2 linked regions of the Homo sapiens genome follow. The protein of the gene in region 2 purifies or fractionates together with the protein of the main gene of each other region. This does not show direct contact. Each region holds a gene or a part of one and is shown on either strand. Other genes may lie near its edges.

What was found. The genes of interacting proteins can lie anywhere in the genome.
Region 1: the proteins of SLC6A20 (region 2) and TEX2 purify together in Homo sapiens (affinity purification with mass spectrometry; 2 studies listed by BioGRID and IntAct, with this or other methods). This does not show direct contact.

The regions. Positions count from the first base shown.
Region 1 is NC_000017.11:64,259,665-64,268,871, reverse strand, and holds the start of TEX2 (testis-expressed protein 2), read left to right. Parts: upstream 1-5,611; 5' UTR 5,612-5,704; exon of another isoform or gene 5,705-6,145; intron 6,146-9,207. UniProt on the Homo sapiens protein: During endoplasmic reticulum (ER) stress or when cellular ceramide levels increase, may induce contacts between the ER and medial-Golgi complex to facilitate non-vesicular transport of ceramides from the ER to the Golgi complex where they are converted to complex sphingolipids, preventing toxic ceramide accumulation.
Region 2 is NC_000003.12:45,753,627-45,758,536, reverse strand, and holds the end of SLC6A20 (sodium- and chloride-dependent transporter XTRP3), read left to right. Parts: 3' UTR 1-85; coding exon of another isoform or gene 86-100; 3' UTR 101-3,088; downstream 3,089-4,910. UniProt on the Homo sapiens protein: Mediates the Na(+)- and Cl(-)-dependent uptake of imino acids such as L-proline, N-methyl-L-proline and pipecolate as well as N-methylated amino acids.

The DNA of each region.
Region 1 (9,207 bases), on a different chromosome or scaffold from region 2:
TGATGTCCCTCAAGGAGCCCTTCCCACAAATGCTTGTATCTCGAAGGTGGTGGGAGTCCTGATTATAAACAGGTTTTCATTTTAGAAGGAAAACCAGTCACGAATGAGGCTCTCCCCCTGCCCCCCATCTTGGAGAGCCGTCCCAGTGCTGGTGCAGAGTGAAAAGAAAGTGTTGGAGGCTTGCCCAGTCCTCAGACTGATTATTTCCCATAAAGGATCCAGGGGAAGAGAAAACCCAGGAGTTGAGCATCTTTAGAAACTCCAGTTCTGTGGCTGCACCTGACCTTGTCATCACTCGGAATGGTTCACCAATGAACGAAGTCGGCTTCCTCTCACCTTTCCTGCCACCACATATTTCCTCCCGTCTATCCCCTCTCCCTTGGATTTCCTATCCCGCATGGAACCCATGACCTATCACTTCAACCACCCTGTTGTCAGTGTCCCCAACTGTTTAGTGTTTCTCCTGTCTGTCCATCCCTAACCCTGGATTCTCCATACCTGGCTTCTGTGGCCAAGCCCCAGAGAGCCATCCATCCAACTCCACAGACCTGGTGCCACCACAAACGCATGGGTCTCCCAGAATCCTCCCTCTCCATCGGGCAGTTCCCACTTTCATTCCTCTTGGTGGCTTTCCAAACCCTCATGGTTCCCCTCAAAGCCCTTCATCATCCCCTCCCCACCCACTCTCGAGAGATGACTTTGCTTCCTACCCTGGCCCAGGGCTACTCTCTTGTCCCCTTGGGACTCCTTGGACCCTATCCCATCAGTCCTCCACTGCACAGTCTCTTCATTCTTCTTCTTCTTCTTCTTCTTTTTTTTTTTGAGATGGAGTCTCACTCTGTTGCCCAGGCTGGAGTGCAGTGGTATGATCTCAGCTCACTGCAATCTCCATCTCCCGGGTTCAAGCGATTCTCCTGCTTCAGCCTCCCGAGTAGCTGGGATTACAGGCATGCACCACCACGTCTGGCTAATTTTTGTATTTTTAGTAGAGACAGGGTTTTACCATGTCGGCCAGGCTGGTCTCTAACTCCTGACCTCAAGTGATCCACCCACCTCGGCCTCCCAAAGTGTTGGGGTTACAGGCGTGAGCCACTGCACCTGGCCGATTCTTCTTTTTTCTTAGCTCTTCTCCTCAGCCCAGCTCTAGGGAGCCTCTACATTTCCAGCCACATCTATGCTGCATGTGTCAATGACCCTAATCTTCTAATTTCGAAATCCCAGAGCATACTTTCAGGCCTCTTCTAATTTGACCATTCTGTGGCATCTGTTGCTGTTGACTGCTCTCTCTTTCAATCTCTTCTCCCTTGGGTTTGGTGACTCTTACTTGGGTTTTTGTAAACTTTCTGGCTTCTCTTCATAATGAACTTCATCTGGCCACCCCTAAAAACATTATTGGGTTCCCCAAGGGTTCTAAGTGCCTATTCTGTGTCCCCACGGCTCCTGGGCTTCCCTCTAAGGAAGCCTATAATGGTCTATCAACGTGTCAGTTTCTCTACTAGATCTAGCATCTACAAGTGCCTTCATCTCTATCCCCAGTACTCAGCCCGCCACCTGGTACTGAGTGCACAGTGATTGCTCATTAATGGTGTGGCTTGTGGCATGATGATCCCTAATCTTTGTTAGATATACAAGTGGATCAACTTTTTGGTTTTCTGTACTTCTTAACCATTTCTGTCTCCAAGAATGCAATGTCAAAAACAGAATTAAAAATCTTAGGCTGGGCATACTGGCTCATGCCTAATCCCAGCACTTTGGGATACCGAGGCAGGAGGATCATTTGAGCCCAAGGGTTCATGACCAGCCTGGGACAACACAGCAAGACCTCATCTCTACAAAAAGTAGAAAGAAATTAGCCAGGCATGGTGGCGCATGCCTGTAGTCCCAGCTACTCAGGAGGCTGAGGTGGGAGGATCACTGGAACCCAGGAGGTCAAGGCTGCAGTGAGCCATGAGTGTGCCAGTGCACTCTAGCCTGGGTGACGGAGAAAGACCCTGTTTCAAAACAAAAAATAAAATCTTAGAGCATTTTTTGGTTTGTTTAGAAATTGGTGAGAAAATAGGGATTATCTTGAAATGCAATAATTGGGAATCTTTCAAGTATATCAGAACCTATGTGGGCTTAACCTGATAGTTGAAACCTGGGTTTCAAGAGAGCCTGGCATGAGGGTTGAGGGGTTGGGGGTAGAGAAAGAGGGGAGAGTATTAGCTTGGGCTTGCATTTCTGTGACTTAAGATCCTACTCTAGGTGAAAAAATTTAGATCACTTGGTACATGCTATACATATAGAGTAGCTATCTGGGGGACAAAGTAAGGAATCTTGCTTGATATCTGAATTTAGCCTCACAATCCCTAACCTTTTTCAGAGGTACTACAATGAGTCACAGATGCCAAGCTCTAAAATCACTCTTTTAAGCATGATTTGAGCCAGGCACAGTGGCTCACGCCTGTAATCTCAGCAGTTTGGGAGAGGTTGAGGCAAGAGGATCGCTTGCACCCAGGAGTTTGAGACCAGCCCTGGCAACATGGCAAGACCCCATCTCAAAAAAGCCTGGTGGTTACGGTCATGAATGCTGGCTCTTCCTTCAACTAGCCCTGCTATCCTGGACACATCACTAATCTGTGAACTTCAGTTTCTGCATCCATAAAAAGGAGAAAATAATGGTCATATCTACCCTAAAGAGTTACTGTAAGGTTTCAGTGAACTGCTATGTTCCAGGGACTTGGCATAGTACCTGGCACATAGTAACCTCTTAATAGGTAGGAAACAGGCCAGGCGCAGTGGCTCACACCTGTAATCCCAGGACTTTGGGAGGCCGAGGCTGAGGTGGGCAGATCACCTGAGCTCAAGAGTTCAAGACCAGCCTGGCCAACATGGTGAAACCTTGTATCTACTAAAAATAAAAATAAAAAAAATTAGCCAGGTGTGGTGGCGTGTGCCTGTAGTCCCAGCTACTCAGGGAGGCTGAGGCAGGAGAATTGCTTGAAACCAGGAGTTTGAGACCAGCCTGGACAACATGGTCTCAAACTCTTGGGCTCTCCTCCTGAGCGGGGGTTGCAGTGAGCCAAGGTCACGCCACTGCACTCCCGCCTGGGCAACATGACAGAGGCTGACTCCATCTCAAAAAAAAAAAAAAAAAAAAAGGTAGGAAACATTATTGTGTTATGATATGTTCATTTATTTTTCAATGCATCCAAATTCCTCAGATTTCAAAAAGAAGGGATCCTTCTAAGTGTTCATGCTGGATCTTACTGGCTTCTAGTTTGAGATCTGGTTGGTAGTGTATTAATTAATTTAATGCTTACGTGGAGCTTGGTAGGGAAAGGAGGTTGGTGGGCACTCTGAGAGGCACATTGCCAGCTTCCAAGGACCTTTGCAAGGGGCAGCTCCAGGGCCCCTACCCTTTCTCTCTCTCTCTCCCTGAGGCAGGGGGCTGAAGATGTGGCCAAGGAGAGCTTCAGGCTGTGTCTCCATTGGTAACTGCCTTTGTTGCACATTTCCAGAAAACCACAACTGGAAACCTCTTCTGTTGGGACATGAATTCTTTTTCCTTTGGGAAGGGCAACAGAAGCAAGTGGTGATCCCAGGCAGTAATGCCTGCAGCCCAGAGACTGCATTCTCATGAGGCTGATCAATCCTTGTGCAGAGTTGTCCCTGGCAACACAACATCCATCAGAAATCACAGCACAAACAGGGTTATTGTGTGGAGGCCATTCCAAGAGCCTGAGATCTGTGTGGGAGGCAGCTGACCTGCAAGATCTAGTGGGCGAGGGCTGACCTCCAAGTCTGAGGACAATGACTTCTGGGTCAGGCAGGTGTCTGGGATACTAGGAAGGGGAGAGGAATGTTGCCAGGAGGGTAGGCAGGGCTTGCTGGCATTGGAATGAGGCACCAGAGTAGCAGGGCATTCTTCTGGGATCATGACTGGGCCTGGTGGTGAGCCGGAGTGTGTCTGCCATTAAGATATTTATGCACTGTCTCACGGGTCAGAGAACTAGCCTGGCTTCCCTCTGCTTGAGGCATCAAATCTTCTTCCTGCTTGAGGATTTCAATCTTTCAGATGTTGTTTCATCTGGGTCCAGTGCCCTTCTACACTCAGTTCTTGGCATGACTTATTCTGTTATGAGTGTCTTAGTAGGTGACCTCCTCCCTTACTAGCAAGTCTCCCAACCATATTACTAATTCTGAGGATGAAAGGAGTTTGGCTTTCATTTTGCCAATTGAATTTGAATTTCATGACTATGATAGACTCAAAACACGCACCTGAGTGTGGTCCTTGTACCACTTGCATTAGAATCACCTGGAGGGAGGGGTGTCGAAGGCCATCTCAGACTTACTGAATTACAGGTTCTGGGGTGGGACTTAGAGATCTTCATGTTAAAACCCTCCAGGATGATCTGACGTTGAAGATCTGACATTTGGGACCCACTAATGCAGGAGACACACTGACACATCTGTTTGTTGTCTTGGTCCTTTCTTGTGGTGGGTGGGAAGTGCAGAGGGGCAAGGACTACGGGGGAAGGGGGAACTCTCCCTATGTGCCAGTGCTTCTGCCAGCCAACCCAGGTTCGCAGAAGATAAATGCACAATGGGCATTGCCATCCCAGGAAGCTCATTCTAAGTGAGAATTTACCTCGAGAAGTCACTTTACCTCTCTGAGCCTCAGATATTGCCTCTCTAAAAATGAGTAGTTAATACTATATAAGTTCTAAGCTCTAAGAACTCGTGGCCAGGCGCGGTGGCTCACGCCTGTAATCCCAGTACTTTGGGAGGCTGGGTCCGGCGGATCACGAGGTCAAGAGACCGAGACCATCCTGGCCAACATGGTGAAACCCCGTCTCTACTAAAAATACAAAAATTAGCTGGGCATGGTGGCACGCGCCTGTAATCCCAGCTACTCGGAAGGCTGAGGCAGGAGAATCGCTTTAACCCAGGAGGCGGAGGTTGCAGTGAGCCCAGATGACGGCACTGCACTCCAGCCTGGCGACAGAGCGAGACTCCGTCTCAAACAAAAAAACTAGTAACAGAGTTAGTTCAGGATAGGATGTGGTAGTGTGGTAGTCAGGTGGGGGAAGTACATAATGCGGGAAACTGGGAATTTGCCTTTTTAAATCAATGTCTGCAGTTGGATGGGGATAGATACGTCTGATGGCCCTCTAAAATGCAAATCGAGTGAATTTGCCCAGGGGGATACCCCTGGTTCTCCGCGCCTCAGTCACCCCACCTCAACCCCCAGCCCTCGTCTCAAGGGCACTTGTTGCTGCTAGACTGCAGGAAGAGGAAATTAAGAAGTGCAAAGAGCTGGGGACAGTGTGCAGCCCCGTTGGGAGAGTGAAGCTTTTGTCCCCCTCACCTGGGGCTCTTCCAGGTAACCCTCCCCACCACTCCTCTCCCTAGCTCCAAGGGCGGTGGCCCCTTTAACAGACCTGACAAATCGCTCCCCCATTTCCGCGGCCTCACCTCGGCGCGCGGTAGAACTGGATTGGTTGGGCCTGGCGTGCCGTTTGCTCCGCCCCCGCGCCCTCTGGTTGGCGGCGGCGGCCGCGGGCGCGGGGCGGGTCCGCCGGCGGGGCGGGGCGGCGTGTGCCCGGGGGCGGGCGGGCGGCAGGGCAGCAGGACCGCGGCCGGTGCCCCAGCCGAAGCCGGAGTCGCGCGGCCGGGAGCACGGGCGCCGGCATAGTACAATGAGGCAGCCAGCGGATCTTGGGTGAGCAGTCTCAGGGCCAGGCGGGGGCGGTGGAGGGAGCGCCCCGCGGATAAGGCCCGGGCTGGGCGCGGATCGACCCCGCGGGCTTCAAAGTACCGGTCGGGTCCGGCGGCCCTTGGCGTGGCGGGGCTCGGCCCCCCACCCCGCTGTCATGGTTCAGGTATTGAAGGGGACGCCCACCCGCGACACCCCCGGGCAATCCCTTCCTTCGGGGCCCCGCCGGATGGCTCGGGCTCGACTCCGGCGGGAGGAGCTGCCGGCCCCGTCCCCTCAGCCTGCGGTCCCCGGCCCCGGGCAGGGAGGCACCGTCACGCGCAAACTAGAGGAAAACGGCTTGCAATTTTATGAATGGGGCCCCGGGTTCCTGCCGCCCCCCTCACCGGCGACGCGAAATGCTTGAAAGTCGAGAACCGCAGTTACTTTTACTCGAATCTGTCAGAGGTTGTATGCGCCCCGGTGGTTTTTCTCCAACTCCTGGAGAACGCGGGTGGCGGTGGGGTGGTTTGTGTGCTTTAGCAGGGAGGCGGCGGCGTGCCGAAATCCGGGGGATCGGAAGGTTAACAAGTGACATTGGGCTGAGGCCTAGCGCCAGGTGCCTTGCGGGGAGGCGGTGTGGCCGTGGACGCCGTCGCTGCTGGCTGCTGAGCACGGAAACCATACGGTGGAACCGGAGAAGGCGGGGAACGGCTGGCCACATTGCACCACACGCTGCCTAGAGCGTACGGCTGCCATGGGAGTTGGTGCAGGGGAGTCTTCCCCTTTTGAAAACGATTTTTGGAAAACTTAGCCCCTCAGTGGGTTGATAGTTACTTAAACCATCGGTTGTTATGGTTACTGGGCGTCAAATGTAAGGGCAAAGTCTGTTTCCACCCTCGCTCTTTCTCCAGAGCTATGAAGTACTTTGTCACTGTGTTTTACAGACACTGTCCAGGGAGGACATCCTTTTTTAGAGTTGAGGGAAAATTGTGGGCTCCTTGAGGGCAGGGCTCGTGCCACGTTCACGTTTGAAGTGCCAGCGTCTTCACACCATCACCGCTCTGCACATGCATTAAAAGGAATGAGGCTTTTACATGTTTTGAGGATTCTCAGAGGATTCAGAGGAGTCATTTCAGGAGCCAGGTGTAAGCTGGAGGGGAAACAACGAGTGACTTTTATATGGAAAACAATAAGGAAAAATGGAGGGCAGGTTATCCTTGAACTCTGGAGTATGGGGAGTTTGAGGAGTCTAGGTTTGTGAGTTTTAGGGCTGGGTCACACAGAGACGCTTGTCTCATATTGGAAGAATGAAACTGCCATTTCTGTTAGCTCTTACCTAGCCCATAAACAATATTCTTTCAGATTCTCCCCAAAAATGGTAGTTGGTCTAAAGTTATGGTAAACAAGCCCCCTGAGGTGATGTGGATAGAGTGGGATTTTGCCATATCATTTCTTTCTTTTTTTTCTGGGCCCCTTTGGGAGTGTGAAGGCTTGGAGGGAGAGGATGTGGAGGGCTCTGGGTGAACTGAACTTGCTTGCATGTTTATCTCCAGTAAAAGGCACTGTGCCTGAGAGGAAGGAGATTAACAAATTGATTCAGATCAGAAGATGGTGGTAATTGAGTCTACTGACAAGCAACCGAGGGGCTGGGACAGACGAGGAGGGAGGAAAAATTCAGGAGTTTGGTTTGGGCTGATTGTTGGAGGTCTGAAGAGCAAGTTATGTCATCGTGAGAGAAGATTAGACACAGCATATACCAAACATAATGTTCATTATTAGAGGTTATGTTAGAATGCTTCTGGAGAAGAAGCAGGAAAGATTAGGCTTTTCGATAGAATAAATACGTAGCATGTTTTGGACAAAAAGCAGTTGCCTGGAGTTAAAAAAGAAATTATTTATTAAAATAATAATAATTTTGCTGTATGCCAGAAACTGCTAGACATTATAGAAATGATGGAGGGTTTTTTTGTTTTTAAAGGATGAAGAGTTTGTTTCTATATGCCATATTAGTTGCCTTTCCTTCAAGTCAAATGCTTCTGTTTTCTGGAAGGTTTTCTGAATCCCTTGAGGAAAGAGAGGGGAGAACTGCACAGTTTATTACTTAATATGAGAACAGAGCAATGGGGAAATTCTCCTCACTGTAGATTACTTTCAGTATCAAAGTGAATCTTCAAAGACCAGTTTTCTGTGTCAGGTTCAATATAAAATTATATTAATCCTCACGTCTGTTGACTGGTATCTTTTGATGGAAAGTGCCTGTTCTTTCTTTTTTTCCATTTGTCAATTCATTCATTCAGAGTTAGGAAGTTCATTAAACACACACTGTCTCTTGTTCTCTAGGTGTTTCTAGTTCATTTTCTTTGCCTGAATATCCCTCAGGGTCTGCTTTCTTCTGTCTGATCCTTATCTCCTGAAGGTCTCCTTGGGAATTGCTGAGGTCACAGGGAATGCTTATTCTTTGATTCTGTCCCAAGGCAGAAGACTAGTATAGAAAAGAGAGCAGTGTTGAGTTCCAACTCAGCCAGGTACTGTTTTCTGCCCCTTATGTATATATCCTCTCCAGTCCTAGAGCAGCCCTCTAATGGAGGTGTGATAGCCTCATTTTACAGAAGAGGAAACCGAGGCTCAGAGCAAAGTAGTAACTTGCCCAAGGTGACAAGCTGGTTAGATGGTGGAGCAAGAATGTCAGTCTAGGACATTGATTCAAAAAACGTGCTTTTTGGGCCAGGCACAGTGGCTCACATCTTGTAATCCCAGTACCTTGGGAGGCCAAGGCAAGAGGTTTACTTGAGGCCAAGGGTTTGAGACCATCCTGGATGACAGAGTAAGACCCTGTGTCCAAGCAAACAAAACACACTTTTTCCATTGTACCACGTTGTTTTTCCCTGGAGAGAAATGGCAGTTTATTAGAGATGTCTCTTGCAGTGTCCTCTTGAGTGGACATGTTCAGAGTGGTCAGGTTCAGAGATGTTCAGAGAATTGCTGCACTAATGAGCTCCTGTGCTCCTGCTGGAGCCAGAGTTAGATGCCGATGTCTGTCTCTCTGCCAAGTGCAGTTTTGAGTAATTCACGAGGCTATTGGGAAATCTTTTACTGCCATGAAAAGGTGACTGGACTGACTGGGTCTGTATCCTTGTGCTCTGCTTACCAGCTCTGTGACCTTAAGGGTAAATTACTTCTCTTTCTGTGTACCTCAGTTTCTTTGTAAAGTGGGAAAATATTCCCATTTCAACAATGCTAAGACAGTGTAATTTATGTAATGTTAACATTCCTGGGGAAAAAAAGCATCTTGTAATGTATGGGGTCTTAGACTTGTAGTCAGCAGTGGCTTCCTTTTTTGGCACATAAAATAACAGTGTGTCTTATAGTCAATGGTCTTAGATGAACTAGGGTAGTATATTATTTATAGGTAGTTGTAAGAATTAAATGAGATCACTTATGTCCCTGGTTCTAGTGAGCACCCAATAACAGGTCATGCTGTCCACTGACAGGATGAATGGTTAACTGGGAAAAGCTGGGAAGCATCT
Region 2 (4,910 bases):
CAGTGGTGCAAAATTAATTCTCTTCTTTTTTGAGTTGTAGTGAATATGCAATTTCTGTGTTCCCCTTCCACCCTTTAAATCTTAGGATGACAAGTTATAAAGAAAGAAGATCTTTGTCTGGGACCCCCAAAGGGATCCTTTCTCTAAGGTCTCTGACGGTGGGTCCAGGACCAGACCTCTCTACAAAAAATTGCCCCAACTACAGTTTGCAACCCCAAACCACATTAGAAGTCTGTGCAGACATCCCTCCGTGGTGTGTGTCTTGGTGCATTGGAAAAGGAGTCAGGAGCCACTGTGAGGTGAGAATGAAAGTGGATCTCAGCTGGGCACGGTGGCTCACGCCTGTAATCCTAGCACCTTGGGGGTCAAGGTGGGTGGATCACTTGAGGTCAGGAGTTTGAGGCCAGCCTGGCCAACATGGCGAAACCCCATTTCTACTAAAAATACAAAAAAATTAGCTGGGAGTGGTGGCATAGGCCTGTAATTCCAGCTACTCTGGCTGCTGAGGCACAAGAATCATTTGAACCTAGGAGGTGGCGGTTGCTGTGAGCCAAGATCATGCCACTCCACTCCAGTCTGGGCGACAGAGCAAGACTCTGACTCAAAAAAAAAAAAAAAAAAAAGTGGCTCTGACTTTCCCATAGGCTTAATATTACATTTGGACATCGTGGCCAACTCTATCAAGACCACAAATACCACTTACAATTAATTTTAAATTATTCATCTGTACATAGTTTTCTAAAATGTATATAATTCAAACAGAGCATCTTGTAACTGAAGACACACCATATCTATGATATCGCATTAGTCCATGTGGGGAAAAGAAAGATCAGATTGTTACTGTGTCTGTGTAGAAAAGGAAGACATAAGAAACTCCATTTTGATCTGTACTAAGAAAAATTGTTTCTGCTTTGAGATGTTGTTAGCCTATAACTTTAGCCCCAACTCTGTGCTCACAGAAACATGCGCTGTAATGAATCAAAGTTTAATGGATTTAGGGCTGTGCAGGATGTGCCTTGTTAACAATATGTTTGCAGGCTGTATGCTTGGTAGAAGTCATCGCCATTCTCCATTCTCGATTAACCAGGGACACAATGCACAGCAGAAAGCTGCAGGGACCTCTGCCCAAGAAAGCCTGGGTATTGTCCAAGGTTTCCCCCCCACTGAGACAGCCTGAGATATGGCCTCATGGGAAGGGAAAGACCTGACTGTCCCCCAGCCCGACACCTGTAAAGGGTCGGTGCTGAGGAGGAATAGTGAAGGAGGGAGGCCTCTTTGCAGTTGAGATAAGAGGAAGGCTTCTGTCTCCTGCTTGTCCCTGGTAATGGAATGTCTCGGTGTAAAAAGCTGACCATTCCCATTCGTTCTATTCTGAGATAGGAGAAAACCGCCCTGTGGCTGGAGGTGAGATATGCTGGCAGCAATACTGCTCTGTTACTCCTTGCTACACTGAGATGTTTGGGTAAAGAGAAACATAAATCTAGCCTACGTGCACATCTGGGCACAGTACCTTTCCTTGAACTTATTCGTGATACAGATTCCTTTGCTCACATGTTTCCCTGCTGACCTTCTTCCCACCTGTTGCCCTGCTACACTCCCCTCGCTAAGACAGTAAAAATAATGATCAATAAATACTGAGGGAACTCAGAGGCCAGCGCCGGTGCGGGTCCTCCACATGCTGAGCGCCGGTCCTGGGCCCACTGTTCTTTCTCTATACTTTGTCTCTGTGTCTTATTTCTTTTCTCAAAAAAATTTTTCTTTTTTTAACTGCAATAAAGTAGGTCGTTACCCCTAAAGTGAGCGAGTCCCTTCCTGCTCTAACGTCCAGTGCTTCCTTGAGATCATGGAATTCTGGAGAGTTTCTGTGGATATATTTGCACAGATATCTTTGAAGACACAAACACTCACCTGGGACGTTGGCCGGAGATGTCTTTTTATTTTTGTGCTGTAAAATTCTCTTACAGCAAAAATAGGCTTTAGAAAGGTCTTCTACTGTCTTCAGCAACCATCTCATCTTCCAGCTTCACCTGATTGTCCAGTTATCATACATTTGACTTTCAAATGTATGAACCAGCATGTACCCCATGGATTTAATCTTATCTACCCCGTGGATTCAATCTTCTTATCAGAAGGTTCTTTTATGTCAAAAAACCTGCTGTCAAGGCTTGAAGAGCCGGCACACTCAATGGCAAACACAGCACCGAGTCTGCTCTGAATCCTGGAGGATCTGGCCCTCCTCTCAATCCCCACTCACAGTCACCGTCTTACAACTCAGGGCCACCTGGGATCAGTCATCAGTCAGGGTGCGTAAGCCTTGAATACCAGGTAGCCTCAGGAGTGAAAAGATAAATGTCCTAGATCATTACCTTATTCAGTGTCCCCACCTTGCAGCGCATTCCAACCACCTGGGAGCATTTAAAACTCCAGATGCCCACACCACACCCTGGGGCCACCCATCAGACCTTCTGGAAGCAAGACCTGGGCCTCCATGGCCCCAAAAACTCCCTAGGTGATCCGATGTGCAGCCAAATCTGAGAGGCCCCATTTAAAAAAGAAAGAACATGGGTGGTACATTGAGGAGTATTTACATTTTATAAAATGACTTAAAAATTTGAAGGCATTTTTGAGCATTTCCAATTATATGGAAGAGTTACTTCTACGGAATAGTTTTTGCTCATGGAACTCAAACAGATGAAGCACCACTGTTACAGAATAATGTGCTCCAGATGAAAATGTCTCGTTTCTGTGAATTTCATGAAGAGCAGAACATTTCTCAAGAATCCTCTTGAGCCAGTAATCAATCCTGTCTCAAAAAATGTTCTTTGCCATTTCCTAGATACTGCACAAAAGTGGCCATGTCGACATTTGTCCACCCACCCTCCAATAAGCTGGAGCGACAAAGGGACATTCCATCCCTGTACCCTTAGTGGTAGCCATGACACGATGGCCAGATCATGGACTCCGGAAAGCTTTCTGTTTTTACTGGAAACATAGCAAACCTTGATTTAGCTCCAAGAAATTGAGTAGGGAAATATTTGTTTTTTAGCAATTGTCATAGTAAATAAAACTCTAAGCAAGTGTATCTACAGTTTTTGGTTTTGGGTTTTGCTTTTGTCACTTACTGGATACAGTTTAAGACTTCTCTCAACACAAGATTTTCTCTCATGTAGAAACACAAGCTAATTTTGAAAAAATGGAAAATAAGTGGGGGGGACAAATCCATCCAACCTTTTTTTCTGTCACCCTTTTCTGCGTTTACCTCTTCATATAACCCGTGAGACCGCACCAATGCAGTGGATGAAGTCTATCATGGGAAGATGAGAGATAGATAGAGTCCACAAGAAAAGTTAGAAAAAAAATTTCTAATTGGCCGGATTTAAAACAGAATGTGAGCCCCTTGGAATTGCTGCAGAATCTTGCCACTCCTTTTGAGAGTGTCCCGGGCAGTCTTGCCCATCTCAGCGTCTCTTTTTGGCCAGGGCCATGCAGAACCACATTAGGTTTGAATGTGACCTCAGAGCCTCACCTCAGAGGGGGGAGTGTGTAAACTATTGTATTTGATTTTTGTATGAGTTACTTTACATGGAAAAATTAACTTATGCCACCTTATAGGTAGAAAAGCTGGGGTAGAGAATTAACTAAGCCGATTTTCTGCCCTACATCAGTCAGGGGAAGAAAAAAATAACAGATTTACACATCCCTTTGCAAGGCAAAAATTGCATCTACAAATAGCAAATTCTTAACCTGAATTTCCTGACCAGTCTCTTACATGTGGATCACTTTTCTATTATTCACCCTCCTGTAGGGTGGGTGGATCAGCCTTTTTTGAGATTACCCAACTAGTATATTACAAACCAGTCCCTTGGTATGCGCCGGGGGCAATGGTGAACAGGATAGACACAGTCGCTGGCCTTTATGGCACTTACATTCTGGAAAAGGAGACAGACAATGATGCATAACAAATAAATCATATGATTACAGACTGTGATCATGTCTAAGAAGGAAATAAATGGCCCGATGTGGTGGCGTTAACAGGACAGTACTTTAAGCGGTTGAGGAACTTCGTGAACTGAAATTTGAAGAAGAAGGAACGAGTCATTAAAATTCCTAGAAGGCCTGTCCAGGAGAGGTGACAGCAACTGCAAAGGCCCTGAGGAGGGAAAGAGCAGAGAGGAGGCCTGTGGTTGGAATGGGAAAGTGAGCGATGGGAAGTGAGCTTGGAGGAGGGAGCAGGGGCCAGATCACATAAGGCCTCACAGGCCACAGCAAGGAGCTTCATTTTCGTTGAAGAGAAAGAGAGTGCCACTGAGGGTTCACTGTGGGGTCTGGCAAGATCTGATTTATGTTTGAAAGATCACTGTTGCCATAGAGGATGGATGGGAGCGGGGCATAAAGGGAGGCTGGAAAATCACTCCAGAATCTACTGTAGTAAAGCCATGGAAGATGATGGCAGCATGGACGTGGGAATGGATATGGAGAAAAATAGGCAAGCTTGAGTTATACTTTGGAGGGAAAGTTGCCAAGTCTTGCTGATGGGTTGGATTCCCAGCTGAGGGAAAGGGGGATAAAGAGCTTTACCTGCTGGGGGGATGCTGGTGCCATTTCCGGAGATGAGGAAAGTGGGGAACAGAGCTGGCCTGCAGAGTAAAAATCAAGAGTGGTTTGACCATGTGAAGTTTGAGATGTCTGTGAATTAGGTGGAAATATCCAGTAACCTGTTGAACACAAGAATCTGGAGGTTGGGTTACGTCTGGGCTAGAGATATACATTTGGGAGTTACAGTGGAGAGATGCTATTTAAAGCCACAGGTCTAAATGAGGTCATCCAGGGTGAGTATACACAAAGAAGAGGGCCTGCGACCAAGGCCTACAGGAACTCCAATGTGTTTTCGGACATGGCCACATGTGATT